2 linked regions of the Homo sapiens genome follow. Each later gene encodes a partner of the first gene's protein in a complex. Each region holds a gene or a part of one and is shown in the gene's direction. Other genes may lie near its edges. The genes, in order: NCBP1 and NELFE.

The links.
Region 2: the proteins of NCBP1 (region 1) and NELFE are in contact, whole or in part, in a crystal structure (PDB 5OOB), measured with the Homo sapiens proteins. Residues at the interface, in NP_002477.1 of Homo sapiens: Tyr461, Lys511, Lys557, Ser558, Ser560, His561, Ser564, Lys568, Ile609, Arg610, Gln612, Cys616, Lys647, Met648, His651, Glu705; in NP_002895.3 of Homo sapiens: Arg362 (codon at 3,684), Ile365 (codon at 3,693), Val366 (codon at 3,696), Tyr367 (codon at 3,699), Ser368 (codon at 3,702), Asp370 (codon at 3,708), Val371 (codon at 3,711), Tyr372 (codon at 3,714), Gly379 (codon at 3,735), Phe380 (codon at 3,738).

Annotation. Positions count from the first base shown.
Region 1 is NC_000009.12:97,628,865-97,636,826, forward strand, and holds the start of NCBP1 (nuclear cap-binding protein subunit 1), read left to right. Parts: upstream 1-4,956; 5' UTR 4,957-5,017; coding exon 5,018-5,051; intron 5,052-7,962. UniProt on the Homo sapiens protein: Component of the cap-binding complex (CBC), which binds cotranscriptionally to the 5'-cap of pre-mRNAs and is involved in various processes such as pre-mRNA splicing, translation regulation, nonsense-mediated mRNA decay, RNA-mediated gene silencing (RNAi) by microRNAs (miRNAs) and mRNA export.
Region 2 is NC_000006.12:31,951,581-31,956,043, reverse strand, and holds the end of NELFE (negative elongation factor E), read left to right. Parts: intron 1-750; coding exon 751-825; intron 826-947; coding exon 948-985; intron 986-1,151; coding exon 1,152-1,489; intron 1,490-1,601; coding exon 1,602-1,746; intron 1,747-1,909; coding exon 1,910-1,964; intron 1,965-2,212; coding exon 2,213-2,315; intron 2,316-3,645; coding exon 3,646-3,743; 3' UTR 3,744-3,957; downstream 3,958-4,463. Other genes in the region: CFB (complement factor B preproprotein), read right to left, coding at 4,014-4,169, 4,440-4,463. UniProt on the Homo sapiens protein: Essential component of the NELF complex, a complex that negatively regulates the elongation of transcription by RNA polymerase II.

The DNA of each region.
Region 1 (7,962 bases):
GAGGAACAGAGGCCTCCAGCTGACAGCCAGCATCAACCACTAGACCCTTCAGATTCCAGATTGGCCTCTGAGCTGAGAGCAGAGACAAGGTGTCCCTGTTGTGCCCTGTCCAAATTCCTGCCCCACAACATAACAACTGGTTATTTCATATTACTAGTGAACTGGCAAAGTTAGTTTCTTCAGGACAATATTGAAGGAGGCAGCCAGAGGTGGACACTGAAGGTTCTGAAAATAGTAACATGCAAAGTAGTCCCAAACTCCACAAGAGGGAGCAGAAAAAGCACCACTAAGAATGAGAGAAAGGAAGGTGGGAGACACTGGTGACAAACTTTGCCAATTCACAACTCTGCCTACAGGGTACCTCAACCAGGTGAAGGCAACAAGGAGCAGTTTATGTGTGGGGGAACACACACTGCTTGTTAACAATGCTGGATAGGACTGATGGAGACTAAACATACACAGACACACACAGGCAATACCAACTTTCTTATAAAGGACCTTTGTTCCTTGGATTCATAAATTAAGATGTCACTTGCACCACATAAAATGCATTTGAATCAGCTAAGTGGTGCTTTCATGGGGCTCAAAATGAGCTTTGTTATAAGGGTAAGGCAAGGTAATACAGATTTATTAAACCTAAATTCTCTTGTATTTGAAAAATAAGTGGAAGAGACTGGGTGAAGAAATACTACCTTCTTTAGCTTCTCTTTCCTTTCTCATGAAAATGTCTTTCATATAAAGTCCCACTGAAAAAAGTACATCCCTAACTCTACACAAACCTGTAAGCCTTCCAGGCAGAAGTAAAATAAGTAGAAGAATCTTATTCAACACACTTCCTCCATGCTCAAAGCTGTTTTATTGTAAAGGTAGAGAAAGTACATATATCATTTCCAAATTAAAATTCATTCAACAAATATTTATGGAGGGTCTTCTAGGTTCCAGGCATTGTTCTAGAAACAGATAACTTATTTACCTATAAGGGCAGTACATTTGGGAGGTAACATTGTCGAAAGGAATTACTATCCAATCCGGTCCCACCTCCAGCATCTTTTCCAATCTCCCTCTATATGACCTGATGTAGTCTGTCCCAGCATTTATGCTTTCCACTGCTTTGTTTCCCTTACTTTTTCACTTCTTTCCCTCCCCATATGCTTACTATGTATATGAAGACTGAACTCAAGTGTCACCTTTCACTTATGTCTTGTCTGCTACCCTGTGTCACTGCTTCCTTTGAAGGCCTGAAAAACTTAGTTTCCCTATACTCTAGGCTCATCTCTGACTATGCTCCCCATTCCCCATCAGATATCCTACTCTAGCCACACTGGACCATGCCCAGTTCCACAAATGAGCCATGTTCTTTCCTGACTCAAGGTCTCTGCACCTGAGTGTGGGGTGCCTTTCCCACCACCCCAAAATGATCTCCTCCGACTCTGCATCTTTTTTCAGTCTCAGCTTATTTTGATTTATGTACATACTCTGAATTATTATTATTTGTGGCACCTCTGCTATGTGCCGGGCCCATGGAATAGTCCTGGGAATGCAGCTATGAATGAAACAGTTGAAGTACCTGCTCTCTTGGAGCTTATATTCTGGTAAGGAGAGACATTAAGTAAGTAATAAACAAACAAACAAACAAACAAACAAATCATGAAAATACCAGCTAGGGATAACGGCCCCTGCTTCTCAGTTTCCTTTGCTGGATCTTCCTTATTACCCCAACCTCTAAATGTTGAACCACTCTATCTATACTTACCCTACAGGTGATCTCATCTACTTCCAAGGACTTAAAACTATATTTGCCTCAAAATAATTGAGAGAGAGGAGGTAATATCAATGAAACCAGATTACCCATGAATTAAGAATTACTGAAGTTGATGATGAGTACATGGGGTTTCATCATAAATTTTCCCTACTTCTGTAAATATTTGAAAATTACATGAGAAAAGAAAAAAGGGAAACATAAAGGAAATTTTCTGTTTAGAATACTATATAATAAATGACTCCATATTTATATCTTCAACCTGGGCCTTTCTCCCAAACTACAAATTCATATACCCCACTGTGTGTGAATTTTACACTGTGTGTGAAGCCAGCTAGCTTCAGCTTCAAATACAACTGTTCAAAACCAAACTTTCGTCTTCCCCAGTCTTCCTTATCTGAGTAAAAGACAATTTTATTCTTCCTGTTATTCAGACAAAAAAAACTTTGGGATGATTCCTGACTCCTTATTTTCTCACACTATCATTCACTTGTTCAGAAAATACTTTTTTTTGAGACGGTTTTCGTTCTGTCACCAGGCTGGAGTGCAGTGGGGTGATCTCGGCTCACTGCAACCTCCGCCTCCCAGGTTCAAGCGATTCTCCTGCCTCAGCCTCCCGAGTAGCTGGGAGTACAGCTGCACGCCACCACACGCAGCTAATTTTTGTATTTTTTTTTTTAGTAGAGACAGGGTTTCACCATGTTGGCCAGGATGGTCTCAATCTCCAGACCTTGTGATCCACCCACCTCGGACTCCCAAAGTGCTAGGATTACAGGGGTGAGCCACCATGCCTGGCCAGCTTTGCTTTTGAAGTACAATCCAATCAGATCACTTTGCACCACCATCTTTACTACCACCCTAGTTCAAGCTACTATCATTTGCAGCTAGAATTACTGCAAAAGCTGAACTATCTTCCTCCTTTGGGAGCATGAGAAGTAACTATTAAAAAAATAAGTCAGACTGGCCCTGCACAGAGGCTCATGCCTGTAATCTCAGCACTTTGGGAGGCCAGGAGTTCAAGACCAGCCTGGCCAACATGGCGAAACCCCATCTCTACTAAAAATATACAAATTAGCCTGGTGTGGTGGCGCATGTCTGTAATTGCCGCTACTTGGGTGGCTAAGGCACAAGAATTGCCTGAACCTAAAAGGCAGAGGTTACAACGAGCCAAGACCGTGCCACTGCACTCCAGCCTGGGCAACAGAGCGAGACCCTGTCTCAAAAAAAAAAAATCATACTCCAATGACTTCTCAATTCACTTGGATAATGTCCAAAGTCCTCACAGAGCACCTTCCCCCTACCTCTCTGATCTCATCTACCACTCTCCCGTTGCTCACTACCTATGATGGCACTATTTGTGGGTATTCCTGAATGGGTCGTTAGAATATATCAGCGCCAAGAGAGCAGGGGTTTTCCTTTGTTCACCTCTACATCCTCAGCATTCAGAACTCTGCCTGGCACCTAGGAGGTGCTAAATGCTAATAAATATAATATTCGTTGAATGAAATAAAACAGTGATTGGGTAACCAAAGAAGGCCTCACTAAGGACCTGACATTTGAGCTGAGACCTAAGTGACCAAGAGCCAGCCACGCAGATTTAGAACCAGAGACCTTCAGGTAAAGGAAATAGTATAAGTTCCTAAAATAAGAACAAGCTTGACTTATTGTAAGAACAGAAAGAGTGGTTGGAGTACAGTGAGGAGAAGTAGAACCCCACAGGCCATGGCATGGAGTGTGCAATGGAAAGTCGTAGGAGACTTTTTTTTTTTGACACGGTCTCACTTTGTTGCCCAGGCTGGAGTGCAGTGTGCGATCACCGCTCACTGCATTCTCGACCTCCTGGGCTCAAGGGATCCTCCCACCTCGGCCCCCAACCCTCCCCTCGAGTAACTGGGACTACAGGCGCCAAACACTAGGCTCAGCTAATTTTTTTTTTTTTCCTGTAAAGACGGTGTTCGCCTTGTTGCCCAGGTGGGTCTTGAACTCCTAGGCTCAAGCGGATCCGCCCGCGTCGGCCTCCCATAAGTGTTAGGATTACAAGCGTTAGCTACCCCGCCCGGCCGTCATAGGAGACTTTTAAACAAAGCAGTAACACGATCTGATTCTGGATTTGTGTTGAAAGCAGAGCAGGCAGGGTTTACAGATAATTGTTATGTAAAAAGAGGGAAAAGAGCTAAGAAAGACTCTAAATTTTTGGATTAAGCGGCCGACGGATGACGTCATTTACTGAAATGGGTAAGACCGAAGGAGAATTAGGCCGGGAGAGTGAAATTTCAGATGGCCATGGACAAAGCAGATAAGCCAGTATGGTGCTCATAAAGACATCAGGGGAGGGGACGCTCACACACAGGCATATAGGTACCCAATAACCCTTGAAAACAGATTACTAAAACAATCATTTGTTCCTTCCTAAGCAAACAACTTAAGGAAAATGACGGCCAGCCGGCAAGCCCGGAGCCGCACGCTCGCGTCAGGGCCGGCCTTTCCATACCAAGGGGCGGCACGTGCGGCACCGCCTCCCGCCCAGGCCCCACCCCGCATGCCGAGCTTGGCCCAACCTCTCCTCCCACTTTTCCCAAGGCGGCAAAAGCCGGAAAGTGGGAGTAGATGAGCACATACCCGCCAGTCCTGATCCTTTCTAAGGTCTCTCTTCCCTGCACTGTCTCCGCCTAGCAATTGTCACTGCTCACCGCCCTCGAGCCTATTCCCCCGCCGCGTATTTGGGTAGAAAAGCTCGCTCGTGACGTCACCAAGCTCCGGAAGTCTCCTGGCGTCGGCGCAAGGGCCGCCGGGAAAACCATTGAGAGGCCACCGGGAAACCATTGAGAAGCCCCGGAGGACCGGCCTGAGCGGAGGCGGAGACTAGAGCGGCCGCCGGCACGACCCGCCTTCAGGCGTACGACGACCGCGGCCCGGGGGCTCTGAGTGGCCAAAGCGGCGGCACTTTCTGCGTGGCCCCGGAAGGACATAGAGCGGAAGGCGGGAGAAAGAAGTAGCCGGCAGGCGGAGGCAGCCCGAGGGGGCGGTTGCATGTGTGCCAGACGTTCGTAGCCCACTGAGCTTCCTCACGCCGGCTGTCGCAGCGCCTAGCCCCACCCGGCGGCCTCTCCTGCGCTTCCGGGGCCGTGGCGAGCTAGTGCGCCTGCGTGCCGGCCCATCCGCGCGCCTTGCAGCTGTCCTTGCGTCGGCCAGCGGCCAGACAGTTCCTGCAGCGCTTACCGCCTGGCCTCTCGGTTCCGCGGCGCACCGGAGGGCAGCATGTCGCGGCGGCGGCACAGCGACGAGAACGACGGTGAGTGCCTGCGGCCCGGCCACGGAGGCCGCTCCCGGTTGGGAGCCGAGGCTCGGCGTCTTTGGGTGTCCACGGAAGAGACTGGAAGCTCTTCTCCCCGGGAACGTGCGGGGAGCCGCGGAGGGAAAGAGGAGAATATGGTGGCGGTGTGGTCGGGCGGCTTCTAGAAAGCGACTTCTCCCCCGCCCCAGTTCTTTGAGTCAAGGGCCGATCCTCGGGAAAGAAGGCCTGGTGAACCCCATGGGTAGACCCTTGGTCTCTAAGGATGCTTCAGAATTTCGTCCGTAAAACCACGGAGCAGGGAAGCACACCTGTGTCTGTGCTGCCGCCTCTTAGGGACCCACTGGTCCTAGTGTCTCGTTTTAACCTTCAAAGCTGCACCTGAAAAGGGCTCGGAAGAATTCACTGAAGGAAAGGACTGAGAGATCTCATGAGTTGCAGTCTGAACTCTGTTCCGGTAGTGGTTATCCGTTGATTTCACTTCTTTCAAGCTGCAGGGAAAGAATATTGTCTTACCTGCGCCCAAGAGGTCCCTAATAAACAGACACAGGTTACTGCAGATTTTGAACTGGCCGTAAGCGCATTTCCCTTGTGTGAGAGAGAGTGCTAGAAAACTAACTTCAGGCCTCTGAGAGAGTTAGAACAGGGGTTCCCATCTCCGTTTGGATGATTGTGCTCGTGGAGATCAGTGTTGCCTTCATAAAGATGGAATAATTCTAGTTTTAACAACAACAAAAAAAAGATGCTTATATTACACATAAGCCTTACAATCGGTCAAAAACACAAATCCACACACCAAAAAAGTAAAACTTAGAGTAATTCTATTGTTAACATTTTAGTGTATTGTTTTTTGAAGAGAGTGTATAGTAGTGGTTAAGAGATGAGACTTTGGAACCAGAGGGTTTAGGTTCAAAGCCAGACCCTACCATTTACTTGGTGATCTTGTCCAGGTTATGAAATCTCCTTAAACTTTAGTCTGTAATACAGAAGTAATGATATTTATATCTTCTGGTTTTTGTGAAGGTTAAATGAGGTAATACACATCAGCAACAATGATGTTTTATCATTTGCCAACGCTTAAGAGGCGGTAAACGTTAGCAGATGCTGTCAATGTAAGAAAAAAACCCATAACAGACATTTTAAATTGAGTAAATTTTATCTACTAACGTTTGTCTCTCCTTGAGTGTTGTGGCAGTTGAGGTGGAGGCAGAATCGCATGCATTTAGTTTTAATAGTGAAACACCAGATTTCTACGAAGGAATGGCTTGAGAGGATATTCTAGTCCAGCTTTCTATCTGACACCTAAGGGTCTAGAGACTGAGCATAACTAAGATGGAGGGACAGCTGTCAGTTCCCAAACACCAGCAAGAGCGAATCCAGTCCGGGGCTCTCTTCACTACACAGGTATAAATTAAATAACTATGCTGCGTGCTTTGATTTCTAACACGAGGTTTCTTGTGTAACCTCTGTACAAGGCACAGAAAATACAATTCCCTCCCTTTTTTTTTTTTTTCTGAGACGGAGTGTCATTCTTTGTCAGGCTGGAGTGCAGTGGCGCGATCTCGGCTTACTGCAACCTCCGCCTCTCAGGCTCAAGTGATCCTCCCACCTCAGCCTCCTAAGTAACTGGGACCACAGGCGCGGGCCACCACGCCCGGCTAATTTTTTTTTTGTTTTTGTATTTTTTGTAGAGACGGGGTTTCGCCACGTTGCCCAGGCTGATCTTGAACTCCTGAGCTCAGGTGATCCACCCGCCTCGGCCTTCCAAAGTGCCGGGATTACAGATGTGAGCTACTGCGCCCGCCGATAATACAATTTTCATATGCTTTGTAATTGACTAGTCAAAAACTAATATACTTCTCAAGTCATTACTTGGGGGCTGGAGAACTTGAGTCTTTTGTTCTTTTCTTTGTTGTTCTAATGCTTCCTTTTTCTCACTTAGAGGTAATCCCTAAAGAGAGAGGAAATGTCATTGTAGGGCATCCTAGAGAATTGGAATGCTAATATGTAGAAAAATAACTTTTGCTTTGGTTATTGGGAGACTTACATAACTTTCTTGGAGTTGGCTTGTTTTTAACACCAGCTGGCAGCCAAATCACTGTCCATTTGGGTCTTGCCGCGAGAACCTCAGAGTAAATAAGACAAGTAAAACAAAGCATTCATTAAGCAAAGGTTTTTATGGTTGATATTTTAGTGTGGGAGAGGCAGATACAATTCATGTTTGATAATACAGCAAATCTGAAATTTTTGTCAGTTGCCACAATTTGGATAACGATCGCTGGAGTTTACCCTACACAGTGATCTGAATCAGATTATTTTGGATGCTTTCCTTTTAGTTAAAAATCTATTTTTTAAAAAATAAATCTTAGAAGCTTAAGGATTATAGAAGGCTATTTTAAAATAGGGTAGGAATTATTACAGTCAGAATTAAATAGATGCATCTGAGCATTTCTGGACAATTGTCAGCTGCTGTCAGTCACTGCCCTGACTTTCCGTATGCTTGACTCTCTATATATAGAGTGTGTGTATATATATAAACTATAATAGAATGTATTATATATATTTATATATTATATAAATTTATATTTATATATTATAAATTTATATTTATATATTATATAAGTTTGTTTATTATAAGTTTTATATAAATATATACTCTAATATATATTTTACATATAATTATATACTGTATATATAGAAGCAAGCATATGGAAAGTAATACATATATATATATATATATATATATATATATATATATAAAATCATTTATTCAACAAATACTTAACAGTGCCAAGCTCTGTCCTAATTACTTGCCATACAGCAGTGGACAATATAAAGATAGAGCCTCCCCTCTAGAGTAGAGAGAAGACAGTCAAGTAAAGTATAGTGTATCATATAGTGACAGGCGCTA
Region 2 (4,463 bases), on another chromosome or scaffold:
CAGGAGAATTGCTTGAACCCAGGAGGCGGAGCTTGCAGTGAGTCGAGATTGTGCCACTGCACTCCAGCCTGGGTGACAGCGAGACTCCGTCTCAAAAAAAAAAAAAATTAGCAGAATGTGGTGGTGCACACTTATAGTCCCAGTTACTGAGGAGGCTGAGGCCAGAGAATCACTTGAACCCAGGAGGCAGAGGTTGCAGTGAGTGGAGATCACACCACTGCACTCCAGCCTGGACGACAGAGCAAGATTCTGTCTCAAAAACAAAACAAAACAAGCCACAATGGCAGGTGCGGCAATGGCTCATTCCTGGTTAATTTCAGCACTTTAGGAGGCCGAGGTAGGAGGATTGCTTGAGCCCAGGAGTTTGAGACCAGCCCTGGCAACATAGTGAAACCCTATCTCTACAAAAAAAAAAAAAAATACAGAAATTAGCCAAGCATGGTAGAGCACATCTCTAGTCCCAGCTACTAGGGAGGCTGAGGTAGGAGGATTGCTTGAGCATGGGAGGTCAAGGCTGCAGCAAGCTACGATTGCTCTATTGCACTCCAGCCTGGACAACAGAGCAGGACCGTGTCTCAAAAAAAAAAAAAAAAAATAAGTAAAACCACGTCAAATAAGAAATGTATGTAGAATTAAAAGGGAAGAAAAGATCAGAGGAAACCTAGAAGAGGGTGAGGGAAGAGGAACACCTCTGGTCCATGGTTGGGCAACCTCCTGCTCCACACTGAGGTAGGTCTCTCACCACTCCAGGACCCCGAGAAGGGACCAGTCCCCACTTTCCAGCCGTTCCAGAGGAGCATATCTGCTGATGATGACCTGCAAGAGGTAAAGGCTCCTAATTTCTGTCCCTGAGGGGTTGGGGATGGAGGAATATGAGAGACAAATATATTTTGGACCACATGTCAGCAACTGGAAATCATCTTAACTGTTCTTGGTCTCTTTTACAGTCATCCAGACGTCCCCAGAGGAAATCTCTGTATGAGAGGTTAGAGAGTAGAGATAAGGCTGGGCCCATTTGGTGGAGTTGATTGCCTGAGTCCTTGGGAGGTTTGGGCTGTAGGAGCTGGGCTATAGAGGGAATATTGAGTCTCCACAGGGTCTGAGGGGAGAAGGTAAAACCCCCCTTTGATCTTCAGTCTGCATCTCCCCAGCTTTGTGTCTTCTAGTGATCGACTTCGAGAACTAGGACCAGATGGAGAAGAGGCAGAGGGCCCAGGGGCTGGTGATGGTCCCCCTCGAAGCTTTGACTGGGGCTATGAAGAACGCAGTGGTGCCCACTCCTCAGCCTCCCCTCCCCGAAGCCGCAGCCGGGACCGCAGCCATGAGAGGAACCGGGACAGAGACCGAGATCGGGAGCGGGATCGAGACCGGGATCGAGACAGAGACAGAGAGCGGGACAGGGATCGGGATCGGGATCGAGATCGAGACCGGGAACGGGACAGGGATCGGGAGCGGGATCGAGACCGAGACCGAGAGGGTCCTTTCCGCAGTGAGTGATTTTGGCTGGAGGTCAAGGTGACCTTAACTGAGGTTTATGTGGGTCCTACTAAGTGAAATGTGGCATGGTCTATGTCTTGTGACTATGATTTGTGCTCCCAAAGGGTCGGATTCATTCCCTGAACGGCGAGCCCCTAGGAAAGGGAATACTCTCTATGTATATGGAGAAGACATGACACCCACCCTTCTCCGTGGGGCCTTCTCTCCTTTTGGAAACATCATTGACCTCTCCATGGACCCACCCAGAAAGTAAGGATGACAACAGGGCATGATGAGAAGTCCTGGGAGAATCCTGGGGTGTGAGACCTGAGGGAAGAAGCTGCCCTCCCTGCAGCCGCCTATTATCACTGGGTTTGGTTGGGTCCAGAAGAGCCCCTTGGCTCTCCACTGACCGTGTTTTCTCTTATCCCAGCTGTGCCTTCGTCACCTATGAAAAGATGGAGTCAGCAGATCAGGCCGTTGCTGAGGTTGGAACTTCCCAAATCTGTTCTTCCCATCGCTTCTGCTGTTCTCATGTGTTCTCCTCAAAATACTAGATGCCAGGAAGAAGTTGGTTCCTCTTGATAAAGAAAGCCTCTCCCTATTCACACAGAAAAACTCACATTCTCAGATTCCTTATTCAGTCTCCTCCTAGGATAGCAACTCCTGGAATAACTTCTTTGGTTTATCTGTAATGTTTTCCTCCCCATCCTCTGCCTCCCCTCTTCTGCTTCAGCTCAACGGGACCCAGGTGGAGTCTGTACAGCTCAAAGTCAACATAGCCCGAAAACAGCCCATGCTGGATGCCGCTACTGGCAAGTCTGTCTGGGGCTCCCTCGGTAAGAATGGGATTCTTCCTTTCCCATCCTCTCCCCCACAGGCCATTCCTTTTGGTTCCCCCACACATCCTTGGGTTTCCTAGAGATGATCGAGGTCAGAGTGTGTGCGGAGGCTATGGGAATGGGAAGGAAAATTTCAGATCCTCTGTCAGTTAGAGGTAAAGAAAGGAGAGAAAAGGATTGAAAACAGCTTCCAAAGCAGTGACTGGAACAGGGAAGAAAGTGGGAGCTGGAGTGAGATTGGTGAGGAAGATGAGTGTCTCATGGGGCTTGTTCATTTTGAGATGGAGTAGAGTGAGTTTCATAAGTATTCGAAATCAGGGATCTGGAACTCAGGTGTGAGGTAAGGAAGGAAAACATAGATTAAGTCATCCACATCACAGGGTGGCTGCCAAACAATAGGATCATCAGGGAGACTCTGATTTCAGAGAAAAAAAAACGACCCAGGACTCAGTTTGAGGAGTACTCTGGGACTATGTTAGGAAACAGGACTGTTCACCTCACACCCCACATGTCCCCAGCTGTCCTGACATGTTAGGCTAACGTTGAGCCTAACGTTAGCAAAGGAGACAGGAGGAGGGGTCGGAGGGCTGGGAGCAGCACCGCAGGGGCCTGGGCCACTGAAGCAAAAGGACACACACTTTGAGAAAGAGGGAGTAGCCAGCAGTGTTGAGGCACAGAGATCACAGGATGGGAGTGGGTGAGAGAGATTCTCTGTAGCTCAAGGGTGGTGGGGATGGAACCATTGGATGGGGTGAAGAGAGTAACATGTCTGGTGGAGGGAGGAAAGAGGAAGGGGAAGAAACAGCTAGAGGCTTGAGAGAGAATGGTGAGGGCCAAAGCTACACCCTGAATGAGTTCTGGTGGAGCTAGTAGCATTTCTTAGTGTGAATAATCCATTTTCCCTGAAAGTAGATTTTCCTGGGAAAGGAGTGAGCAGAAAGAAGGGCTCAGCTACAGTGGCCCTTCAGGCAAAAGAAAGGAACTAGAATTGACCAGCATGTCAAAAAAGGGCTACAGAGGTTTTCTAGTTTTTAGCTTCTGACATACTGACTGTAAGTAGTGGGTTAATATCATTCACGTGTCTCAACAATGACATTTGGGATTTTTCTAAGAACAAAACATTCATCAAAATGTCCACTTATACTTTTCTTGGCCATGGGTTGGCACAAAGGAGCTAAGGAAGACAGGCCATCCTGGCCACCAGAGGGCAGCGTGGAAACTGGGCTTCCAGGGGCCAGTGGCCAGGAGTGAGGTGGTCAGGAGTCAGCCTCAGGGTCTGTTCTATGATCTCCTTTAGACCTTAACTGTTCCTCTCCTCCCTCCCTAGCTGTCCAGAACAGCCCTAAGGGTTGCCACCGGGACAAGAGGACCCAGATTGTCTACAGTGATGACGTCTACAAGGAAAACCTTGTGGATGGCTTCTAGGGAACAGAGCTGGATTCCTTGTGCCTCATATGCCCCAATGCTGGTCTCAGTAAAACACTGAGGTGGAAGCTTACACATCTCCCTCAGCCTCTGGTTTTTCAGCACTTGGGATTGGGGTTAAACCTTTAAAAACGGCTGTCAGGTTTGATCTCAGTGTAACAACATGGCCAGTGCCTGTTCCCCACTCCCTTGCCCCAAAAGGATCTGGAACACAGGTGTTGTCGCAGCTGTTTTAATTCAATCCCACGCCCCTGTCCAGCAGGAAACCCCTTATAGAAAACCCAAATCCTCATCTTGGAGTTTCTCCTTCAGCCAGGGCAGCACTTGAAAGAGGTTGATGTGAAAGTCTCGGGCGTGAGCAGGTACCTGCTTTTGCCGCTTCTGGTTTTTGCAGACATCCACTACTCCCCAGCTGATTACACCAACCTGCAGAGGCAGTGGGGTGCCATGGATCATTCAGTAGAATTCCTAATCCTGGAAGCATGGCTGTTCCTGCTTGTGTCTTAGCTGACCTAAAGGAATCAGACTAGGGACCCAGCTCAGCCTCGTTCTTGACACACGCAGGCAAGACATGCGGTCCTAAGGTGAGGCAGGCTCTGCCTACCTCGAATTACTAGCCACATGCATTGAGCTTTCCTGCTTTGGGGCCCATGCTGACCACTTGGCATCTCCCCAGATAGGAAAGGGAGGACTCACTTGAATGAAACGACTTCTCTTGTG